Homo sapiens: one gene and its partners. The protein of the gene in region 1 purifies or fractionates together with the protein of each later gene. This does not show direct contact. Each region holds a gene or a part of one and is shown in the gene's direction. Other genes may lie near its edges. The genes, in order: DFFA, ISOC1, PFAS, NUDT5, NSUN2, GNB4 and FAM118B.

Evidence for each region.
Region 2: the proteins of DFFA (region 1) and ISOC1 fractionate together in Homo sapiens (co-fractionation; one large-scale study listed by BioGRID). This does not show direct contact.
Region 3: the proteins of DFFA (region 1) and PFAS fractionate together in Homo sapiens (co-fractionation; one large-scale study listed by BioGRID). This does not show direct contact.
Region 4: the proteins of DFFA (region 1) and NUDT5 fractionate together in Homo sapiens (co-fractionation; one large-scale study listed by BioGRID). This does not show direct contact.
Region 5: the proteins of DFFA (region 1) and NSUN2 fractionate together in Homo sapiens (co-fractionation; one large-scale study listed by BioGRID). This does not show direct contact.
Region 6: the proteins of DFFA (region 1) and GNB4 purify together in Homo sapiens (affinity purification with mass spectrometry, with the first as the bait; one large-scale study listed by BioGRID). This does not show direct contact.
Region 7: the proteins of DFFA (region 1) and FAM118B fractionate together in Homo sapiens (co-fractionation; one large-scale study listed by BioGRID). This does not show direct contact.

The regions. Positions count from the first base shown.
Region 1 is NC_000001.11:10,456,022-10,459,275, reverse strand, and holds the end of DFFA (DNA fragmentation factor subunit alpha), read left to right. Parts: 3' UTR 1-2,754; downstream 2,755-3,254. UniProt on the Homo sapiens protein: Inhibitor of the caspase-activated DNase (DFF40).
Region 2 is NC_000005.10:129,104,749-129,108,248, forward strand, and holds part of ISOC1 (isochorismatase domain-containing protein 1), read left to right. Parts: intron 1-207; coding exon 208-327; intron 328-436; coding exon 437-640; intron 641-2,197; coding exon 2,198-2,314; intron 2,315-3,500.
Region 3 is NC_000017.11:8,255,789-8,259,288, forward strand, and holds part of PFAS (phosphoribosylformylglycinamidine synthase), read left to right. Parts: intron 1-16; coding exon 17-122; intron 123-478; coding exon 479-619; intron 620-735; coding exon 736-860; intron 861-1,046; coding exon 1,047-1,175; intron 1,176-2,018; coding exon 2,019-2,150; intron 2,151-2,282; coding exon 2,283-2,411; intron 2,412-3,500. UniProt on the Homo sapiens protein: Phosphoribosylformylglycinamidine synthase involved in the purines biosynthetic pathway. Catalyzes the ATP-dependent conversion of formylglycinamide ribonucleotide (FGAR) and glutamine to yield formylglycinamidine ribonucleotide (FGAM) and glutamate.
Region 4 is NC_000010.11:12,185,892-12,189,391, reverse strand, and holds part of NUDT5 (ADP-sugar pyrophosphatase), read left to right. Parts: intron 1-3,059; 5' UTR 3,060-3,100; coding exon 3,101-3,163; intron 3,164-3,500. UniProt on the Homo sapiens protein: Enzyme that can either act as an ADP-sugar pyrophosphatase in absence of diphosphate or catalyze the synthesis of ATP in presence of diphosphate.
Region 5 is NC_000005.10:6,616,045-6,619,544, reverse strand, and holds part of NSUN2 (RNA cytosine C(5)-methyltransferase NSUN2), read left to right. Parts: intron 1-1,520; coding exon 1,521-1,595; intron 1,596-2,687; coding exon 2,688-2,818; intron 2,819-3,500. UniProt on the Homo sapiens protein: RNA cytosine C(5)-methyltransferase that methylates cytosine to 5-methylcytosine (m5C) in various RNAs, such as tRNAs, mRNAs and some long non-coding RNAs (lncRNAs).
Region 6 is NC_000003.12:179,413,471-179,416,970, reverse strand, and holds part of GNB4 (guanine nucleotide-binding protein subunit beta-4), read left to right. Parts: intron 1-414; coding exon 415-478; intron 479-1,923; coding exon 1,924-2,086; intron 2,087-3,189; coding exon 3,190-3,256; intron 3,257-3,357; coding exon 3,358-3,500. UniProt on the Homo sapiens protein: Guanine nucleotide-binding proteins (G proteins) are involved as a modulator or transducer in various transmembrane signaling systems.
Region 7 is NC_000011.10:126,235,782-126,239,281, forward strand, and holds part of FAM118B (protein FAM118B), read left to right. Parts: intron 1-148; exon of another isoform or gene 149-290; coding exon of another isoform or gene 291-474; intron 475-3,500. Other genes in the region: SRPRA (signal recognition particle receptor subunit alpha), read right to left, coding at 291-474. UniProt on the Homo sapiens protein: May play a role in Cajal bodies formation.

The DNA.
Region 1 (3,254 bases):
GCAGGGAAAAGGTGATGAGTCATCATGGACTTATTTGACCACTTTTTATGCATGCTTAGAGGAAAACAGAATACTGTTAAGAGATTCATCTGCTAGTTATTAAGTAAAGAAATATCACAATAGGCCGGGCGCAGTGGCTCACACCTGTAATCCCAGCATTTTGGGAGGCCAAGGTGGGCGGATCACCTGAGGTCAGGAGTTCGAGACCAGCCTAGCCAACATGGTGAAACCCCGTCTCTACTGAAATTATAAAAAATTAGCCGGGTGTAGTGGTACACGCCTGTAGTCCCAGTTACTTGGGAGGCTGAGGCATGAGAATTGCTTGAACCCAGGAAGTGGAGGTGGAGGTGAGCCGAAATTGTGCCACTGTACTCCAGCCTGCAACAGAGTGAGACACTGTCACACAAAAAAGAAAGAAATATCACAATATGTCACAATAGGCCGGGCGCAGTGGCTCACACCTGCAGTCCCAGCACTTTGGGAGGCCAAGGCAGATGGATCACCTGAGGTCAGGAGTTTGAGACCAGCCTGGCCAACGTGACAAAACCCAGTCTACTAAAAATACAAAAATTAGCCAGGCGTGATGGTGGGCACCTGTAATCCCAGCTACTCAGGAGGCTGAGACATGAGAATCGCTTGAACCCAGGAGGTGGAGATTGCACTGAGCTGAGATCCTGCCACTGGGCTCCAGCCTGGGTGACAGAATGAGACTCTGTCTTTAAAAAAAAAAAAAAAAGAAAATCACAATAAGTCCTAGGGTAAAGATGGGGGTACAGAAAACAATTAAATAGAACAAAAACAACTGTTTCCTTTTCCTGTGATTCAAGAAGGGCTTAGATCTTCTACTCAGCATCCTTTTACTAATGCCCTCCATTGGCTCTCACCCCAACATTTCCTTTTTTATAGCTTATTTTGTAATGCCTCCTTAATTATCCTTTAATAGAAGCCACCGCTGATAAGCTACCTACACTCATACAGAAGCATTAATATAATGCCCCAGATGTACTGTTTCAGGGCAAAAAGGAAAATAATTTCCAACAAAGTGGTGTGTGTTTCACTGTCAGATGCTTGCACTTACACACGGAATCGCTGTGCATCCGACAGAGGCTGATTGGCACATGGGGCACGGGGATTGTCAGCTCAAACACCGTCAGCAGCGTTGCCCTTGGAAATGGGATTTCCCAGAACAGTAAACGTGTCTGTCCTTGATTTACAGAGTAGCTACATTCCTAGGAAATCCAGGGTACATTAAAACTCACCATGTTACCCAGGCTGGTCTCAAACTCCAGGCCTCAAGCAATCCTCCCACATCAGCTTCCCAGAATTTTGGGATTACAGGCATGAGCCACCACACCCAGCCAGAATATTTTATTTCTGTTAGACACACAGAGCGTTCGTTGACTCGTCTGGGCGTTAGTGTTAATATTCTGTACTTGAAGCAAGCCCACCAAGCGGCTGAACTGGGTGGATAATGGAAAATGTCCTGTGGATTTGGGAGTGAGACAAACCGGCTTGAGTCTAACCTCTCAGTTAGTCTAAGGCTCCAAGCTTGAAAGGGTTAAATGAAGTACTATATTTGTTTTGTTTCGTTTTCGTTTTGTTTGAGGCTTTGCTCTGTTGCCCAGGCTGGAGTGTAGTGGCACAATCTCTGCTCACTGCAACCTCCATCTCCCAGGTTCAGGCGATTCTCTTGCCTCAGCCTCCAGAGTAGCTGGGATTACAGGTGCCCGCCACCACACCCGGCTAAGTTTTTTTTGGTATTTTTAGTAGACACAGGGTTTCACCATGTTGGCTAGACTGGTCTCAAACTCCTGACCTCAAGTGATCCACCTGCCTTGGCCTCCCAAAGTGCTGGGAGTATAGGTGGTGAGCCACCACGCCTGGCCTAAATGAAGTACCACATGACCGACAGACCGACCTGGGGAACATAGCAAGACCCCATCTCTACAAAAATGTAAAAAATAAAAATTAGCCGGGTGTAGTGGTACATGCCTGTAATCCTAGATACTCGGGAGGCTAAGGCAGAAGGATCACTTGAGCCCAGGAGTTCGAGGCTACAATGAGCTGTGATCGTGCCACTGCACTCCATCCTGGGTGGCAGAGTGAGGCCCTGTCTCAAAATAAATAATCCAGTCCCCCCCAAGAAAGGAATGAAGTGCTATAATGAGAAAAATCCTAGTACCTAACATATAGTAGACAGTGGAGAGTGGTTCTCTTTCGTTTCTCAGGGGCAGACAGATGGGGTGCTGGAGTCCTCTATCAAAGAGTCAGAGCTCTATCCCAGATGTGTAATGAACGTGGTCACAGACATATTGTCCCATTACCATTTACCTTCCCTATAACCACTGTGCCTCCAGCCTTGTAGAATAGACACATAGGAGCGCAGCAATACGTCTAAAAATAGGAGTGAGAGAGGGCAGGGCATGCCCGTTCTTGTGGTAGAAGAAAAGAATGTCAAAGAAAGCAGCTGGGACTAATGAACTTTACATTAGCCATATTCCATTATTTCAGCTTAAGTCAAATGTCGGTCCTCATGAGGCAACTGGCTTTGACAGGAGCTACGCTAATTACCACTTACCAACCTTTAATTTCTGGGTAAAAGCAAAAGAGAAAAACTAATGGATTTTTCATTTTCCAGAGAGACAAGAATAAAATAATAGTAGTCTGTAGAAAAAAGAAAACCTGCATCAATTACAAGAATTATTAATGTATCTTTAATAAATAACCACATTATTTAGCTGTTTAATTTCCTAATTACCTGTTCAAGCTTTTTTTTTTTTTTTTTTTTTTTCTTTTTCACCTTGAGGGTTTTTGTCCATCTTGTTTGTGGGGTTTTGCCTTAAATCATTTTGGCTGCATCTTATACACCTTGTGGTTTTTAAGGACCTTGGACATGATCTAGTCTGAACCCCCATCCACCGCCTGAGTCCTCCCAATAGGTCTGACAGTGAGGGTCTCCATTCTGTTTGAGAGCCTCCAGCCAGGGGGACAGACGCCCTCCCCAGGAGCTGCACTGCATTTACAGGTTGCAGAACCTTAGAGTTGACAACTTGCTCAAATGATATCAGACAACACTCGTGCAATCACAAGGCTGCAAGGAAATGAGCCCACAGATTAATGCATAGATAGCGGATTTTCTTCACTCTTTTTCTTTTCTTTTTTTAAGACAATCTCGCTCTGTCACCCAGGCTGGAGTTCAGTGGCTCTATCTCAGCTCACTGTAACCTCCACCTCCCAGGTTCAAGGGATTCTCC
Region 2 (3,500 bases), on another chromosome or scaffold:
TAATTTCCGCTATTAAAAGCAATTCAGAGAACATCTTTTTGAGTTTTTTTTTTTCCTGTAATTCAGATACTTTTTTTGGATAATAGCGGTAGAAATTGACTTACTGGCTCAAACAATAGGACCATTTTTCTTCCTTTATTGACCTCCACTGAAAATAAATGTCATTGTACAACAAGTGCTAAATCATTCTTTTTCTTTTTTCCTCAGCTCACTACCCTGGGAAATCTTACACCTTCAAGCACTGTGTTTTTCTGCTGTGATATGCAGGAAAGGTTCAGACCAGCCATCAAGTATTTTGGGGATATTATTAGCGTGGGACAGAGATTGGTATGCTTGTTTACTTATTTGGTCATATTTGCTGAATCATCATATACACTCATATATACACATATATGTATATAGCTAATTGTTTTTGTGTTTGGTTATTTTTTTTCAGTTGCAAGGGGCCCGGATTTTAGGAATTCCTGTTATTGTAACAGAACAATACCCTAAAGGTCTTGGGAGCACGGTTCAAGAAATTGATTTAACAGGTGTAAAACTGGTACTTCCAAAGACCAAGTTTTCAATGGTATTACCAGAAGTAGAAGCGGCATTAGCAGAGATTCCCGGAGTCAGGAGTGTTGTATTATTTGGAGTAGAAGTAAGTACCTGTTACTATCATTTAGGCACAATATTATTTATAGAAAACTCAATATTTGTGGAATGTAATTTCATATATGGTATGCCAGGTAGGCAGTAATAATGAGGAAAGGTAGCCACCATGTATTATGTTCACTATTTGCATGGCACTGATCTGAACATTTTATAGCTGTTTATTTATTAAGTCCCTTAAGCCAAGTAAGAGCTAAATACTCAGTAGTCTCCCCATATTAAAGAGGATACTAAAATACCGAGATGTTGTGTAACTGACTTGAATGTATGTAAGCTGATTGATTCTTGGTCCTGTATTTTTAACTACTACTTTTGGAATACATTTTCACCAAAGGCATTATTTTAATGTATGTGTTGTAGGATTTCAGTTAGGTCATATTTTTGTGCTAGAAGAACCTTGGAGGTCATGTAGTTCATTGTCCTTCAAATCATGTATGTATCTTTTTACAGGGGAAAAATACTAATGGATTCCTATTGCTGATTTCAATTGATTTATTCCTAGCTTTTAAACAACTATTAAACTAAAATTTTAAAAATTAAGAAAAAACCACTAAAACAATGAAATCAAAATATTAATTTAATGTGATTATGACAATTTGAAGGTAACTTTTATAGTAGTAGGTTTTAACAGTAGAAAGATATTTCCTCAGGCTTAGATGTATATTCAATATTTCTGTATTTTGGCACAGTAAAGAAGAAGCCTGTTTTGTATAAATATGTCGTACCAAGTGCTGTTGCTGGCTTTGCACCTTTTTTGCTTGTTCATCATCATTAGACCTTATGCTCAATCACAATTATCTTTGAGTGGTCCTTCAATGCTAATTTTAATGAGGTGTCATTTGATAATTCTCCAAAACGCTCTTGTCATGTGAAGATAAAGTTGACGTGGCATCATTGAAATGTACTTTCATTGGTTGTAATACATGATTCAGTCATTGTTGCAGCCTGTTTTCACTCTATAGTATCTGTTAATGAATTGACACAAGTTAGTACTTACAAAGATGGAATCTGTATAATACATTTGCGGATGATATGAACTGGGTATTTTTTTCCCGTGTCATAAGTTATTTTTCACTTGGCCTACCTTTACTACAGAGTGCCTCATAATGACTCAGTTTTCCCACTAAGTTCTCAGTCTGCAAGACTGAAGACTCATTCTTCATGTTGGACACTTAGGGTGAATGAAGAAAAAAACTCAAAGTCGCACCAAAACTGAGTGCTAGTAAATCAGCTATGTGAAGGTCATCCAGATCACATGGAGCAAAATCTTTAACAAATTCTTGTAAAACTCTAAGAATATGTTTAAGGTTCTTAGTATCAGAAACATTGGCCTAATTCAGTTCCTGATTTTACAAATGAATAAACCAAAGCCAGAGATACTGTTTTATGCTCCAGATTATCTAGCTAATTAGAAGCAAAACTAGATGTAGAACAAGGTCCTTAGATGATCTGTAGTGCTCTGTCTGCTTTATCATGTTGTTGTACATTTGTAAACTACTTTTAGTTTATTATGTTATTACATATGATTCTTGTACTTTCCTACTAGACTCATGTGTGCATCCAACAAACTGCCCTGGAGCTAGTTGGCCGAGGAGTCGAGGTTCACATTGTTGCTGATGCCACCTCATCAAGAAGCATGATGGACAGGATGTTTGCCCTCGAGGTAATTGTCCTGCTTGGGAATAGATCATTTGTCAAGTTTTCCAAATAAATGAGAAGAATACTGGATATTTAACAGTAATGAAAGGTTTACCTCCTAAATTTGAGTTGGTCTGGCAATATCAGACTAATTGATTTCAACTGTGCACTGACTGACCCTTAAGGCTTCACCACCATATCCTATTTTATGTCTCGTTTCCTCCTTAGATCAAGGTTTCTAGCGTTGCCACAAACTCCTTTACATCTTTCGTCATACGTTTGCCCTAGTTTTATACGTGAACTAGGAGATATTCCAAGAAGCCTAACCTAAACTGTTTAGAGGTTTGCAAATTAAAAATAGCTCAGTTGGGTTTAACTCATTTAGCCAAAAGCTAGAGCAGAGCAGGCCTAACCCAGTTTAATATATAGTGGACCTTCTGTATCCACAGATAGAAAATATCAGAAATAAAAAGCAATAAAAAATAACATCACAACAATAAAAATAAAAATAGAATGATAGGGCAGAATAACATCTATTTACATAGCATTTACATTGTATTGGGTATTATAAGTAATATAGAGATGATTTAATGTATATAGGATATGCATAGATTATATACAAATACTATGCTGTTTTATATCAGGGACTTGAGCATCCATGGATTTTGGTATGGGGTGGGGTGGCATCCAGGAACCAGAGATGACTATTAGATTTCCTCAGACTTGAATTTCTGGGACTAAGTGGTGTGTCATTGACTGTGGACACCACTCACATCCAGTGTTTCATGGTAGTCTTGGCATTAGAATGTCACCATGTCCCATGGAATCAGGGAGTCTGTAATTCTCTGTCAACATTGCCCAACAGTAGGATGTCAAGCATTTTCTTTTTCAAGACTGTTAAAAAGCAAACTACCACATAATCTTGGGAAATATTCACTCCATATTGTCGTTTGATCTCTCTCTCTCTCATATTTAGTTCTAATTTTGTAATAATTTTAGAGCAATGTGCATGTGAATTTAATTGCTGAGTTCTTTAACTGTTTATTGAGAATGGGAAATACATGGGTTTGTTTTGTTGAGACCCTCCAGTGTTCTATGCACAGTCTGGCCTGTGAACTGCCTTGTCTGTAGTAGGAATGCTAACTCATCCCTTTAGCCTACTGTGTTCCCCAGGGTGGTAAGGTAGAGCAAATGAGAAAGGGGAGGGCCTT
Region 3 (3,500 bases), on another chromosome or scaffold:
TGGATTTGTCTCCTAGGTCTGGCTTTAGACTCTTGGGACCTAGACTTCTACACCAAGCGCTTCCAGGAGCTACAGCGGAACCCGAGCACTGTGGAGGCCTTTGACTTGGCGCAGTCCAATAGGTGAGGAGAAATGGGGTTGTTCCCATACCTGAGCCCATGGGTGTTGGGAGAGACCACAGGGGCTCACCTTCATGTTCCTCCCTTGGCTTAGGGGCCTCCCTGAGTCTCTGAGGGCCTGGGCTCCCGTCATCCATCAAGGAGTCTACATTCAAATCTTGGTTTTATCTTCACTTTGGCTCTGGATAGTCCAAAATGACAGAATACTTGAAGATTATGACTTTTTGGAATATATTTTGATCTGTCATCTAAGTATGAATTTGGCTGTAACTCTGCTGTTAAATGCTGGTGAGAAGACATGGCATTAAGAAATGACCCCGTTTCCACCTGCCTTCCCCTCCCTGCATCGCCCCCTGCAGCGAGCACAGCCGACACTGGTTCTTCAAGGGCCAGCTCCACGTGGATGGGCAGAAGCTGGTGCACTCACTGTTTGAGTCCATCATGAGCACCCAGGAATCCTCGAACCCCAACAACGTCCTCAAATTCTGTGATAACAGCAGGTGCTGTGCCCTAGACTGGGTTGGCGTCAGGACCCGGGGAGGGGAGGCCCCAGGCCCTGGTTGGGTTAGTGTAGGTCCCAGAAAGGAAGCAAGGTCCATGACGGGTATGTCCACAGTGCAATCCAGGGAAAGGAAGTCCGATTCCTACGGCCTGAGGACCCCACACGGCCAAGCCGCTTCCAGCAACAGCAAGGGCTGAGACATGTTGTCTTCACAGCAGAGACTCACAACTTTCCCACAGGTGAGCTGGGTTCCCTGGAGAAATAGGTGAGATCACAGAATAGGGTAGGGCAAAGGTCCCAGGCCCCTGGAGTGGGCCTGGGGAAAATAATCAGGGAAATTGGTTGTCCTTATTTTCAGTGGGGGTGGTCAGAGATGGGGGTTTGTCTCTGAGGCACCCAGACCTCTCCCCACTCTCTCTTTGCAGGAGTATGCCCCTTTAGTGGTGCAACCACTGGCACAGGGGGCCGGATTCGAGATGTCCAGTGCACAGGCCGCGGGGCCCACGTGGTGGCTGGCACTGCCGGCTATTGCTTTGGAAATCTGCATATTCCAGGTTCCATCTCCTTCCTCTCTATCCACCTTCCCTTCCAGATTCCTTGTCCTGGCAGGCAGCAAACTTCTATCTGTTAGGTCCATAGGGTTATCCTGTGTGCCTTTTCTCAGGAGGAAGGGCTCTAGGATAGCTGGCCTTTCACTAACTATGGTCATAAGTGTAGACCTGGGGAGATGAGGTGGCCAGACTGCTTTTGCAGGTCTACGATTTTCTTTAAAAACTAGCCTTCATTCAGCCAGAAAGCATGATATTGGGTTGGTCTTATGATCAGTACCTGCCCCTCAAATCTGGTTTCTTAGCCTGAGAAACTTGGCTGGGCGTGGTGGCTCACGCCTGTAATCCCAGCACTTTGGGAGGCTGAGGTGGGCGGATCACAAGGTCAGGAGATCAAAACCATCCTGGCTAACACGGTGAAACCCCGTCTCTACTAAAAATACAAAAAATTAGCTGGGCGTGGTGGCGGGCGCCTATAGTCCCAGCTACTCAGGAGGCTGAGGCGAGAGAATGGCGTGAACCCGGGAGGCGGAGCTTTCAGTGAGCCAAGATCACGCCACTGCACGCTAGCCTGGGTGATAGAGCGAGACTCCATCTCAAAAAAAAAAACAGAAAGCCTGTGTAACTCTGATTGCGAGATTCAGAGGGAAGGCTGGTGTGGGTGGTGGAAAGAAGACCAGTGCCTCACTGCAGGCTCTAGGGCTTCCTAAAGCAGGACTTCCTGAAGTGGAACATTGCAACCATGCAGGTGGTCCTTGGTGGCCTTGACTCTTCCTGAAGGATGCAGGCTGCTCCGGCCTGTCTTCACAGTTCATTCAGTTCATCCAGTTCTCTCTCCTTCCCTCCCAGGTTACAATCTGCCCTGGGAGGATCCAAGCTTCCAGTATCCTGGGAATTTTGCCCGGCCCCTGGAGGTTGCCATTGAAGCCAGTAATGGAGCTTCTGACTATGGCAACAAGTTTGGGGAACCAGTGCTGGCTGGTGAGGCTGGGGTGTGGAGGGATGACAAACACCCAGAGGGGCTTGTGGGTGGGGTGTGCGACCCAGGGGCTGTGCTATTGGGCGAGCACTGGGGGAACTGAGTGACAGGTCCCTCTGATGTTCACACTCCAGGCTTCGCCCGCTCCTTGGGCCTCCAGCTCCCAGACGGCCAGCGGCGTGAGTGGATCAAGCCCATCATGTTTAGTGGGGGCATTGGGTCCATGGAAGCTGACCACATAAGCAAGGAGGCCCCAGAGCCAGGTAAGAGCCTGCCACCTTTCTCTGGATCCAGCCAGCTTTCTCCCCAGCACAGGATGGCTACAGGGAGGGAACTTAGGGAACACTTCAGTGGTTAGTTTTTAATATGTTGGCTTATCTTATGTGTCACATAATGATGGACAACTCATTCTGAGAAATGTGGCTATTAGGTAATTTCATTATTGTGCCCACTTCATAGACTGTACATACACAAACCTAGATGGCATAGCCTGCTACACGATCCACACAGCCTCTTACTGGCAATATTATCCAGGAATTTTGTACACTTGGGAGCCATGATGAACAAAACAGCATGAGAATAAAATAAGCACAAGAGAAAATAATGCAATCAAGACGTGGTGGGCCAGGCAGGGTGGCTCGCACCTGTAATCTCAGCACTTTGGGAGACTGAGACAGGTGGATCACCTGAGATCAGGAGTTCAAGACCAGCCTGACCAACATGCTGAAACCCTGTTGCTACTAAAAACACAAAAATTAGCCAGGCATCTGCCGGGCATGGTGGCTCATGCCTGTAATCCCAACACTTTGGGAGGCTGAGGTGGGCAGATCACGAGGTCAGGAGATCGAGACCATCCTGGCTAACACGGTGAAACCCCGTCTCTACTAAAAAAATAAAAAAATTAGCCAGGTGTGGTGGCGGGCACCTGTAGTCCCAGCTACTCGGAGGCTGAGGCAGGAGAATGACGTGAACCCAGGAGGTGGAGCTTGCAGTGAGCTGAGATCCCACCACTGCACTCCAGCCTGGGCGACAGATGGAGACTCCATCTCAAAAAAAAAAAAAAAAAAATTACCCAGGCGTCATGGTGCATGCCTATAGTCCCAGCCTCCTGAGGCACAAGAACCACTTGAAGCTGGGAGGTGGAGGTTGCAGTGAGTGGAGATCGCACCACTGCGATCGCACCACTGTCAAAAAAAAAAAAAAAGACGTGGTAAATATGAGATAATATGAAGCTACTGTCAATGTAACATGGCATACCGTTTTTAGGTAAACTTTTTTTTCTCTTTTTTGTTAATTATTATTATTTTTAATCTGCATTTTCTTTCTCAAGTCAGATTTTTTTTCTCTTTTTA
Region 4 (3,500 bases), on another chromosome or scaffold:
GTTCACGCCTGTAATCCCAGCACTTTGGGAGGCTGAGGCTGGTGGATCACCTGAGGTCAGGAGTTCGAGGCCAGCCTGCCCAACATGGCAAAACCCCATCTCTACTAAAAATGTAAAAATTAGCCGGGTGCAGTGGTAGGAGCCTGTAATCCCAGGTACTCGGGAGGCTGAGGCAGGAGAATCGCTTGAATCCGTGAGGCAGAGGTTGCAGTGAGCCGAGATCATGCCTTTGCACTCCAGCCGGGCAACAAGAGCGAAACTCCATCTCAAAAAAAAAAGTTTACCTAATAAATTATCATCTATGGTACTTTCAAAGGAATAAGTGCCTGTTTTCTTAGTAGGGCTGCAGGTTTCAATATGCTAATGTCTGTCTCTAAATATTTAAACTTCTACGTGGTTTACTTCCTTATTGCTTTCAGGTCTCCATTCAGAAGTCACCAAATTAAACAGGCCTTGCCTGATCACTCCGTGTAGATTACTCTTCCCATCTTCCCCACACTTCTCATCCTTTTTAATCTTTCTTCATGAAACGCTGAGTCACTTGACATAAATTTTGTGTTCTTCCTCACTGTTTTTCCTTTCTCCTCACTGGAAAATGAGGTCCGGGGGAGTGAGGGTCTTTGTCCCTCTCACCACCACTTTTTTTTTTTTTTTTTTTTTTTTAGATGGAGTCTTGCTCTGTCGCCAGGCTGCAGTGCAGTGGCACGATCTCAGCTCACTGCAACCTCCATCTCCTGGGTTCAAGCCATTCTCCTCCCTCAGCCTTCCCTGTAGTTGGGGCTACAGGCGCACCCCACCACGTCCAGCTAATTTTTGTATTTTTAGTAGAGACAGGGTTTCACCATGTTGGCCAGGATGGTCTCCATCTCTTGACCTCGTGATCCACCCGCCCTGGCCTCCCAAAGTGCTGGGATTGTAGGCGTGAGGCGTGAGCCACCGCACCCGGCCTCACCGCCACTTTCCTAAAACATCATCTCACCTTTCACAGGTTGGCCACAAGGGTTACCTATGATAGTCAATCAGATATTTGATTTGTAAACGCACTTTATGAATATTCATACAGTTGGTTTTGTTATTGATTGTATTTTAGAATAGGGAAGCTTGCTGTCTTGGGGACAAATTGAAGATCAGATGGGTAGTATGATCACTTTGGGTCCCAGAAGAAACAAAGAGCAGACTCACTTTTTCCTTTAGGACAGTTGGGAAGAGAGTTGATGCTGGGTGGGCTGTATTTTCTTTGAAGCCGAAGTTAGGTGGGGTAGGTTAGAGAACCGTGGAACGTAAGAGTGCAGTGGCGTGATCTCGGCTCTCTGCAACCCCCAACTCCTGGGTCCAAATGACCCTCCTGCCTCAGCTTCCTGAGTAGCTGGGACTACAGGTGCCCACCACCACACCCGGCTAATTTTTTTATTTTTTATTTTTGTGGAGACAGGGTTTTGCCATGTTACCCAGGCTGGTCTCAGACTCTTGGTCCCCCAAAGGGCTAGGATTCCAGGTGTGAGCCACTGTGCCTGGTCCAAGTAACAGTTCTTAAAAGAAACAACAGAGAAAACACAGGGGAGGAAATCATCAGTGAAGTCGTTCAAGAAAAAAATTCCCTGTAAAGAAGCATAGTAAGAAGTTTCCAGATTGAAAGGACCCACTTGACTTCCCAGTACAATAACATCGACATGAAAGTGACTAACTACAAGCTTCCAGAGGAGGAAGACAGGTCACATGGCAAAAAGATCAAGAATAAGAATAGCTTTGGACTTCTCAACAGCAGCACCAGAAGTAAGACAACTAAGCAATGCCTTACAGTTTCATAGACAACTGGCTTTGGGTCTATAATTCTATATACAGCTGAATTAACAACCATGTGTGTGGGTAAGAAAAAAAGACTTTGACCTTCGGACAGGCAAGGTCCGAAAATGAAGGAATAAAGAAAGAGGAAATAATAATATACAATAAATGGGATAAGGGCCTGCTCTTTTCATAACAGAACTTGTAGTACTACTCGATCCTTTCTCTGCAACTATGACTTTGATACATGCTGAAACTTAAAAGTAAGTGGGGAGGTGGGTCCAGTGGCTCATGCCTGTAATCCCAGCACTTTGGGACACCGAGGCGGGAGGAGGATCGCTTGAGCCCGGGAGTCTGAGACCAGCCTGTGAAACATAGTGAGACCCCACCTCTACCAAAAGTTTAAAACATTAGTTGGCTGTGGTAGCATGCACCTGTAATCCCAGCTACTCAGGAGGCTGAGATGCGAGGAGCACGTGAGCTTGGGAGGTAGAGGCTACAGTGAGCCATGATTTCGCCACTGCACTCCAACCTGTGCAACAGAGTGAGATCTTACATCTCAAAAAATAAGTAAGTTTAGGTGTAACAGATGGATAAAAGACTGAGAGGTGGGCATGGAGAGTGGTAAATCTTTCTTCTGTCTTCCCTTGGAAAGAGTTTAAGATTCGGAGTCAGAAAAATCAGGCTGGGCGCGGTAGCTCACGCCTGTAATCCCAGCACTTTGGGAGGCCAAGGAGGGCAGATCACTTGATGTCAGGAGGTTGAGAGCAGCATGGCCAACGTGGTGAAACCCTGTCTCTACTAAAAATATAAAAATTACCAGGCCTGGTGATGTATGCCTGTAATCCCAGCTACTCGGGAGGCTGAGGCACGAGGATCACTTGAACCCAGGAGGCGGAGGTTGCAGTGAGCTGAGATCGCGCCATTGCACTCCACCCTGGGCAACAGAGTGAGACTCTCTCAAAAAAAACAAAAAAGAAAAAAAAAAAAAGAAAAATCTGATGAAGAAGGGTGGCCTCTAAGTGCCTAGAACAGGCATGGCAGGAGCTTGGCTGTTGTGGCTGAGGGTGACTAGGACTGCTGTCACTTCCTTCCTGGCTAATCCCCGGGCCTCCCTGTTCACATTTCCACCTGCGGCAGTTCCCTCACATACTGAGACAGGCAGCGTTGATGGTAGATGAATTTTTTGCCGTTTAAGTACTTTGACTAGTGTCCTGTGGACGAATGTTTAATTCAGAAAAATAATTTTAGCCTGAACAAATCTCATTATCTTGCAGGGTGAACTTCTCACCTGAGGGCTGTAAAGACTCGTTTGAAAATGGAGAGCCAAGAACCAACGGAATCTTCTCAGAATGGCAAACAGTATATCATTTCAGAGGAGGTATAACTTGTTTTTCACTTTCCCTTCCCTCCCCCACATAAATCTGAGTTTAGCAGAAATATATAGACTGTTGTTACAATGGTGGTCTTTCATTCTTGAAGACAGTTGTAAAGATTTTTCCTACTCCCTTTTTTGGGCTCGGGCACATTTTGCTCTTGTGTGGGAGGAGTAGTGTGTCTCTCTGTGTATTAGTGAAATTGAGACTCTAGGAGATTTGGGCTCTTAACAGAAAAATTCTTAATCCTTCCTGTATTTCCCTAGATAGAAGAAGAAAGAATATATGCATTTGCGGACTCAGATATTTCATATGTAGTTGTCACAACTTGGCTGTTGATGG
Region 5 (3,500 bases), on another chromosome or scaffold:
CATGGTATAACTGAGTAACAAGTTTTTTTAAAAGGAAAGAAACAAAACTAAAGACATCATCTGTTCCGTTCCCATAGGAGGTGCACGGATGATGATCCCAGGTGATAATGACTTCTGAATGACATAAGTTTGTCAAGACCAGAATTCAAAAGCTGCCACAAAACTTGTTAGCACAGAATGCAAGCTTTAGATACGATACCACATTATGGAAGAATGCCATTTTGTTTCAGTAAGTGGCAGAGTTACTGCTCATGGCAAAACTCAGTATGAAACTTGCAGCTGGTGGCTCTGAATATAGCTGAGTGTTAAAATAATCTGGAAAAAGCCCTCTTTAAAGTAAAATTTAAAATACATCATGAACTAAAGTTTTTTTTTCCTCTAGGTTGCAATTTTTCAGTATTCCTTGGGGTCTCATGTTTTCCTACCCCTGTTTTTTGATCAGAAAGATAACTCGTTCCTTGTATCATATTCTGAGATCTGAGAACGCAGTGACCTTATGAGCAAGAGGTTGCAAGCTGGGGAAATTTCTGAAATTGTGGTGGGATTTCTACCATGCAAACAACTAGTGTACAGCCAGGAATGCCATTGCAAAGTGGGGATTACATCTCATGGGATAATTCCATCCTGCAGACCTAGTCCCTCGTGTACACGCGGCTAGACCATCAAGGAAAATCAGCATTTACAGAGAAAGCCAACAAAAACAGGCGTTACCTTCTGGGAAAACAGGGCAGATAAAATTAGACACAGAAAGTAACAAATCCAGTCTTTACTATAAAATATACATGGAAAGAGCTTCCATTAACAAAAACATGAAAATAACTTCCATTAAATAAAAGTAGAAAGTCAGAAATTTAACGGTGATTGTAAGAAAAATTTAGCTATTAGTAAGAAAAATTTAGCTATTATATTAGCTTAATTGAAATTACTATGGAAAATTTATTAGTCATTATTCATATAATTCTGATTAAAATGCCATTGTTGATTAACTGAGTTTTTCAATAGTATTTTAGGTTCTGAAAAACATGAAAATAACTTCCATTAAATAAAAGTAGAAAGTCAGAAATGTTTACCTGTGATTGTAGGAAAAATTTAGCTAATATATTAGCTTAACTGTGGAAAATTTCTTATTAGTCATTATTCATGTAATTCTGATTAAAGTGTCATTGTTGATTAACTGAGATTTTCAATAGTATTTTAGGTTCTGTGTCCTAGGTCTGCAAATTAGTCTTGCTAGTGTTTTTTCCAAATGGAAGCACATTAATATCTCCTTAGTGAATGGAGTTTACTGTTCAAATCCATTATTTTCTGCTTGAAAATTGAAGTATAATTTAAAACTATAATACATTAGAAAATCCCTAAAACAAAAGCTGAAAGCAGATTGCAGTTGGTGAAAATGGAGATTGTTTCCTAACTGATATTTGTAACACTTGTTTTGTAACTTAGCTTGTATGTGACATATCTGTTAAAGTGCAGTCATCCACCTGTAGGGAGCTTTGCACTCATAAATATCTTTTTTCCAGTGGAGACGGCACTATGAGAAAAAACATTGATGTTTGGAAAAAGTGGACCACCTTAAATAGCTTGCAGCTACATGGGTAAGTAAAACTTCATCACTGCTAACACTGTGTGACAAGTAGATCAGCAGAGATTTATTGTTATGCAAGTGAGCATCCGATCTTTAATTAGAGAGCTGTAAGCATCAGAGGATGGTCAATGGCCACCTTCAACTGTTTTATCAGAAGTTATTTGAAAACCTTTCAAGAGCAATAACTGCAAATTGTATACATTTCAGATAACACGTTTATTAAAAATGCCTTCTATAAAAATTTCTTGCAACACTTCAGATATGTATTTTTCCATGAAATGACCGTTTACCTCTTGATGTATGCATTACTAATCTTTTCTCTCTGTTTTTGTTCTTTTGTATCATCGTTTTGCTAAGAGACATTTTGATCTCTTAGAAATATTTTTCGGTTGGCTTTTTATGATGGGGAACTATTCATTAAAGAACAATTGGAAAATTCTTAAAGAGAAATCTCATAACACGATGATCACGTCTGTTAATGTTTGGTGTGTTGTATTGTTTTTCTGTTTACAGGGATTTTTTAAGTACTTTTTCCAAATACTTTTGATCATGCTGTCTGTAGAGCAGTGTATTCTTTTTTTCATTTGACATGACAAATGCCATGGTCTTGCATGCAGGACTGTACTGTGCCTGAGCCACAGAATACTAATTAGCATCCACCACAACCAACTATAGCAGGAGGCCTCGTCTCCATAAAATACTGTCTACTGTTTTGTGACACAGAGACAAGAGTTAGGACTGGAATGTATGATACCAATTTTTCATAGAAAAACCACATATTTAGGAAGTATGGAGGTTTTTTAAATAGTGAAATTTCATCTAATACATTGAATTCTGTTGTTACTGAACTTTATACTCTGCTGGTTGACATATTGGGAAAGGTTAACAGAGCAGTAAGAATATTTATATAATACATTTTTTTTATTAACATGAAACACTTTATATAAGTTTACTCTAACTTCATTTAGATCCCTGGAAGGTTTTTTTTAAGTATAATTGTGTTATAAAAGCTTGTAATGAATATGTGACATAAGGAGGTGCTTCTAATATGTGCACTTCATGGATACATTTGGCCTTGCAGTCATCTGATATCTCCCCTTAGCTTACAGCTGCGGATTGCAACACGCGGGGCTGAACAGCTGGCTGAAGGTGGAAGGATGGTGTATTCCACGTGTTCACTAAACCCTATTGAGGATGAAGCAGTCATAGCATCTTTACTGGAAAAAAGTGAAGGTAAGCACGCTTGATGGATCTTTTATTAACAGCATAGGGGGCTTTTCATATGTGTATGGTACAATACACATAACGTGAGGTTTACCATCTTAATCATTTTTGAGCCTGCAGTTCAGTCCCGTTAGGTATATTCCCATTGTTAATCACCACCACCATCCATCTCCAGAAATCTTCACCTTGCAAAACTGAAACTCTGAACTCCTTTAAACAGTAGCTCCCATCTCTCTCTTCCCTGCCCCTCACACCACCGTTCTATTTTTTGTCTGTATGACTTTGACTACTCTAGACCTCACAGAAGCGGAATCATACTGTATTTGTCTTTTCGTGACTGGCTTATTTAACTTACTGCAGCGTCCTTGAGGCTCACTTGTGTTGTTGTCTGTGTCAAAATTGCATTGCTTATTAAGGCTGAACACTATTCTGTTGTTTATATAAACCGCATTTTGTTTACCCATCCATCTGTTGATGGACATCTGGGTTTCTTCCACTTTTTGGCTGTTGTGAGCCATGCTGCTGTGAGCATGGTATACAAATACCTCTCCAAGATCCTGGTTACGATTCTTTGGATATACACTCAGAAGTTGAATGGCTGGATCATATGATCATATAGTAATTCTGTGTTTAATTTTGGGGGGACCCCACCATGCTTTTTTTCACAGTGGCTGCGTCATTTTGTATTTCT
Region 6 (3,500 bases), on another chromosome or scaffold:
CTCTAGTATTGTCATATTCTCAGGCTCTCAATTGGTGTTTTTAGATTGGATGAAATATGGTTGTTAGGCTTCTATGTACATTCTTGTCATGAAATTTAAGTAAGTCAGTAAGTACTAAACCAGTCAGCTAATATCCACCCAAATCTTGTATAACTAAGATGTTGTTACCACAAAAATGTTTAATCATAGCCAGACATTTTTAGTCAGTTGCTAAATTTTATTTTATGAAATATGTTCAAGATTTTTGGCATGCAGCATAAATTTTTTAAAAGTTGGAAGAACATTTTTTGGTATCAAGTTTTTAGTTGGAAAAATTGTATTTTTCTGAATTATTCTACATTAATGCAATGCATAACCAATTTAAGCTATTTTTTCCCTCTAAGTGTCAAATTATTTTTGTGTTTGTTCCTCTAGGCTGCTAGTCAGTGCTTCTCAAGATGGAAAATTAATTATTTGGGATAGCTATACAACAAATAAGGTAGAATTTCTTCATAATTCTTTTAAATAACCTTATATTTGTTTGGCTGTTCACCAGTTCTTTCCTTTATTCTTTTACCTCAAACTTAAATTGCTTTCTGAGATAAATTTATTGTTTATTTTAATCTAGTTCTTCTCTTTTGTCTTAGTGTTTACTTTTAATGTTTAACCCTTTTTCATTTCCAAAGATGACTCTATGTTTTACTAGAGGGCTCATATTTAATATATGAATATTAGAAGAGTACCATTTTACATATACTAATAAATGATTTTTAAAAATTCCCATTTCCTAATATGACAAAGACCTTGAGATTTTTATTTCTAGTTTTGGATAAGTTAGATGGCTAGTGGGAAGCTCTTCTTTGGCCCGCTCCAGGCACTGATTTGTGCTTCTGGACTTTTTAGAAGATACAGTAGATTGGAGGTAAATGACAACTTACGTAGATCTCTTGGTGGTAAAAGACTGTGGATGGTCCTAATACATCCACTGGAAGGAATCCCCAGTTTAAAATAGTTGAGTGGTGAAAAAGCTTCAGGAATACTTTGATAAGCTAATACCTTTATACTCTGTGTATACATATTAGTATTTTTATTAAACATTTGAAAATACCATTTTGTGAAATAATAATTTCAACCTGATTGAGATTTTAAAGCTAGCTAAGACAATTTTGTAATATAATAGTTTTTCTTTATTAATCATCATTAAGCACATTATCTTTCAACTATATTTTCATAAAACAAAAAAAATGTATTTTAAGCGTATTATTTTAGGTTAAGTGAGAGCATAGTAGTAATCCTGCCACGTGTTGATTCCCTGTATGGACTGTTTAGCCGTGGTATTCTCATACACCTTTTTTCCATCTGACCTTCAAATGATTGGTGTTAGGGTAACAAGGCAGCAGACAGTGTTGTTTCTAGAGCAATAAAAAACTATCACCATTGTTTGAATGAGATCCCAGAATAAGGGCCTATTAATAGAGGGATGCCAGTGTTGTCTTTTCATGGAAGACTCATGTAATCGACTCTGATACTTGCTAATTATTTCCCTAGTTCTTGTTCAGAGTTATGTTGGAGGAAATTTCTCTTCTGAGCACTATTACAAAAGTGAAAATTCTATTAAAACCTCTAACATTTTACACTTAATTTTTCAAATGGCAGTATATTAACCTTGGAACATCTTTATGTTCATTATTTTATTAAGAGAATTATTTCCAAAAAGAGCACTTTTTGACTCAAATGATTTGATAATACAAAACAATAGGCATTTTAATGTGCGTTAGTGTTGTATTTTTCATGGTTCACTTTCTCAAGCCATTACATTATTTTATTTGACTTATCTTTCTTAGATGTGTTTAATTTTTAATAATATTTACTTCATTGTAAATGGGTTTATGCAATAGATGACTGTTTTTGTAATCTGAGTGATGTGTGGTGTGTGCCCTACAGATGCATGCTATTCCTTTGAGGTCCTCCTGGGTGATGACCTGTGCTTATGCTCCCTCTGGTAATTATGTTGCCTGTGGAGGCTTGGACAACATCTGCTCTATATATAACTTAAAGACCAGAGAGGGAAATGTGAGAGTAAGCCGAGAGTTGCCAGGTCACACAGGTGAGCTTCCCTAAATATTCTTTCCCACCACACGATTCCTTGTGTGGAATGTGCTGATCAAGGACAAATGACAGATTGTGCTCGGCTGGCTAAAGGATGAGGATTAATCGGGTGGGAATGAAATTATTATGAACAAAGGAAACATTAACTTTTTATAGTCATACAAACGTTGATCATAATTTTATTTTTCAAAAATAGCTGTATTGTTTTTGTAAAAAATGATAAATTTACTGCACAAAATTCAAACTCATGAAAAATAAAGCAAATAAAATGTTCTCCATTTTCTGCTGCCATATAACAATTATGGGATTGTGGCATCTGTACTCAATTACATAATTGAAAGTATGCATTAAGGTACATTAGTGAAGTGCTTTTCACCATGATAGTGTATTGCTTTGTTTGCCAGTGTGCCCATCATAGTTCAATAGTGTAGTATTGGGTTAGTGGTGTTAATCAGGAATTTATTGCCACTTATCTGGTATCTATCCATCTGAATTTTTAGCCATACTATTTGACCATGCTTTTACAAAATCTCTAGAATGGTGTTTTTCTGACATTTCCATATTTTGAAACACTGATGAATGCTAAGCATTCAAATGCCACATCTTTCATAAAGTCTTCACTGTTGTTCTTCTGATTTCTTACAATATTTTATTTTTTTAATATTTTTTATTTGAAAAAAAAATTTTTTTAACTGCTCCTTGCAGAGAAGGGCTAACTCATAGGCGGTGCACCCAGAGGCATCCTCTCACAGTATTTTAAAACTATTTCTCCAGGGTGCTTAACACAGTCGGCCATAGATTATAGTTCTTCCCAAGGTAATTGTCTTAGGTGGCAGGGGCTGTGTCTTATTCAATTTGGTAACTTTCAGAGTACCCAGCACAATGTCATTAACATAGTTAATGCCTAAGAATGGTTTGTGGATAAAATTTGGTTTATAGACAATGTAGGATTTGAAGTAACTAAAAGTAGAACTATAGACTATATTGACAAACACTTGTTGCCCAAGTATTCTATTTTTAAAAATATATATTGCTATTTCACATGGTAACTGAGTTATTCAATCAGTGATAACCTAAAATTTGCTACTCTTTATGCTGTAGGGTACTTGTCCTGCTGTCGTTTTTTAGATGACAGCCAAATTGTTACAAGTTCAGGAGATACAACTTGGTAAGTTTATTCCAGAAGCACACTGATTATGGGTTTGAGGGTGGTAGCAGGAACTGACATAAGAAGAAGTAATTGTCATGAAATTTTGTTTTTAATTACAGTGCTTTATGGGACATCGAAACTGCCCAGCAGACCACCACATTCACTGGGCATTCTGGAGATGTGATGAGTCTTTCTTTGAGTCCTGACATGAGGACTTTTGTTTCTGGTGCTTGTGATGCCTCTTCCAAATTATGGGATATTC
Region 7 (3,500 bases), on another chromosome or scaffold:
GTGCTGGGATTATAGGCGTGAGCCACTGTGCCCGGCCTGGTTCAATCCACTTTTAATATTTACATTATTACGACTGTATAAGTAGTATTCATAGCTGAGCCTAATGCGTAACGATTATGTTTCCTTTCTTGCCCATTTTTTTTGCTTATGTCATTAAAGACTGTCTTTTTTGTTTGTTTGTTTGCTTTCAATGTATTCTCACATGCTCTGACAGAAGAATAAATCTCCTAGCTATACTGAAACACACCGATAACTTGCTGGTTTGTGTCATGGATTCTTCCTTCTGGATGCTAGTCCACTCTGGACACTTGTTCTCCAGTCCTGTTGCGTTCCTGATATTTGCTATTTCCCATTCCCATCATCCTGATAATTTCCTTTACATCTCTCCTGTATCGATTCTCTGTTTGCTGGATCTCATGTCCTCTTTTTTGGTGCACGCCTTTGTTTTCCTGAAGCATGTCCTTGCATAGCCTCCTAAGTAAGGACCCATAGGAGAAAATTATTTGGACATATTTGAAAAGGTCTTTATCATACACTTACATTCATTTGATGGTTTGACTGAGTATAGAATTTTTAGTATCTCTCATTCATACTCTGCTAACATCTAAGTATTCCTGCCAAAATAGCCACTCTGTTCTGATTCCCAATCCTTTGTATTGTATGACCTCTTTCCCTGTTTTTTGTTTTGTTTTGTTTCATTTTTGTTGTTGTTGTTGTTCATTAGAAGCTTATAAGGATCATTATTTTATTCTCAGTAACCTGAAATTTCACAGTGATGTATCTTGTCATATGAATCTAGACACCGGGCAGCTCTTTAAAGCTGGCAACTAGTACCTTCACTTTGGAGAAGTTGACTTATATTACTTTTTTGATACTTTCCATTACAATGTTTTTTCTATTCCACATTTTTTTAAAACTCTTGTTATTCAGATGTTGGACTTCTTGTATTAAGTCTCTAATTTTTTATGTGTTGCTTTATTTTTTTCCCCCCCATTTCGTTTTCTTAAATTTAGCTTTCTCGGGGGTTCTCTGTTTTATCTTGTGGATTTAAAAATTTCTGTTGCGTTATTTTTGATTTATGAAGTCTTTTTGTTTGTTCATTTTTTCATAGCACTCTGTTTATGTTTCACAGATGCTTTTTTTTTTTTTTTTTTTTAGACAGAGTCTCACTGTCTCCCAGGCTGGAGTGCAGTGACACTATCTCGGCTCATTGCAAGCTCTGCCTCCCGGGTTCACACCATTCTCCTGCCTCAGCCTCCCGAGTAGCTGGGACTACAGGCGCCCGCCACCATGCCCGGCTAATTTTTTGTATTTTTAGTAGAGACGGGATTTCACTGTGTTAGCCAGGATGGCCTTAATCTCCTGACCTCATGATCCACCTGCCTCAGCCTCCTAAAGTGCAGGGATTACAGACGTGAGCCACCGCGCCTGGCCTTTTTTTTTTTTTTTTTTTTTTTGAGATGGAGTCTCGCTCTGTTGCCCAGGCTGGAGTGCAATGGTGCAATCTCAGCTCACTGCAACCTCTGCCTCCCGGGTTCAAGCAATTCTCCTGCCTCAGCCTCCTGAGTAGCTGGGATTACAAACGTGCTCTACCACACCTGGCTAATTTTTATTTTATTTATTTATTTATTTTTTAAATAAAGACAGGTTTTCACCATGTTGACCAGGCTGATCTCAAACTCCTGACCTCAAGTGATCCACCTGCCTTGGCCTCCCAAAGTGCTGGGATGACAGGCGTGAGCCACCCCACCTGGCCAATTTTAAAAAAATCTAGGCCAGGCTCGGTGGCTCACGCCTGTCATCCCAGCACTTTGGGAGGCTGAGGTGGGCAGATCGTGAGGTCAGGAGATCGAGACCATCCTGGGTACCTGGGTAACATAGTGAAACCCTGTCTCTACTAAAAAAAAAAAAAAAAAAAAAAAAAAATTAGCGGGGCGTGGTGGCGCGTGCCTGTAATCCCAGCTACTCGGGAGGCTGAGGCAGGAGAATCACTTGAACCTGGGAGGCGGAGGTTGCAGTGAGCTGAGATTGTGTCACTGCACTCCAGCCTGGCAACAAAGCTAGACTCCGTCTCCAAAAAAAAAAAAAAAAAGAAAAGAAAAAATATATGTGAGGATATCATTGTTTTCTTTTAATTTTTTTTTCTCCTTCCCATACTATCTCTTATTTCCTTCAGATTTCTCTCTACCTGCTAGTTTGTTTGGTATAACTGTTATGTTGGGGGCTTTCCTCAGATGTGAGGTGACCCTTGTTTGTCTGCCCATTTTTAACAGAAAACACCAAAAAGCCAATGGAAGAGGCCGGGTGCGGTGGCTCACGCCTGTAATCCCAGCACTTTGGGAGGCCAAGGCAGGCGGATCACTTGAGGTCAGGAGTTTGAGACCAGCCTGGCCAACCTGGTGAAACCCCGTCTCTACTAAAAATACAAAAATTGGCTGGGTGTGGTGGCACGTGCCTGTAATCCCAGCTACTCGGGAGGCTGAAGCAAGAGAATCACTTGAACCCAGGAGGCAGAGGTTGCAGTGAGCCAAGATTACGAGATTCCATCTCAAAAAAAAAAGCCAGTTGGAGAATCTGTGTGTACATAAGGGGCTTGGTCCCAGACTCTATGTAGAGTTAAGGAATTCCCACCTGTCAGAATCTGCAGGTTTTTCATCTCATACTGGCCATTTTCCTGAAAGAGGAATCGTCCTCATTTCCTAACTGGATGGGGGATAGGGGTGCAGGTACAGAGTTGATTCCTAGAGTCTGAAAAGCTTCCTCTGGGGAAAGAGAGTTGGGGGAAATCTTGTATTTTATATACAGACTTTTACTTAATCCCCACCCTCAGCTGTGTGCAGTGTTCTCAGATATAGTCCTCTGGTCAACCTCTGCAGAAGGGAAACCTCTAGCCTGCTGAAAGTTGTAACTGTTAAAGGCTTGTAACTGATTCTCCTATTTTAGCCCCACCAGCCCCTCTACCTTTAGATGTACATGAACATTCCCAAAATTCTACCAAGGGAATCGGCCTTTGCATTACAATTGGTAAAATGTTGTTGCCCTTTGACCTCTGTTGTCTGCTGTCATCTTTACCTAGCCTACTTTTTAGGTATATATACCCGCTAAAAAAAAAAAGTAACTATTATTTGGTGGTTTACAAAGAACCAGTAATAAAACACAATTGTTAAATGTTTTATTTTTAAGTGGAAGTCTTTTTTTTTTTTTTTTTCGAGACAAGGTCTTGTTCTGTCACCCAGGCTGGAGTGCAGTGGCACAAACACAGCTCACTGCAACCTCAGCCTCCTGGGCTCACGTGATCCTCCCGTGAACTTAGCCTCCCAGGTAGCTGGGACTACAGACGTGCCTAATTTTCTTTTTCGTTCTTTCTTTGTTTGGCAGAGATGGGGTCTCACTAAGTTGCCTAGGCTTGTCTCAAACTCCTGGGCTCAAGCTCAGCCTCCTAAAGTGCTGAGATTACAGGCATGAACCACTGCACTTAGCCAAATTGGAAGTCTTAATTA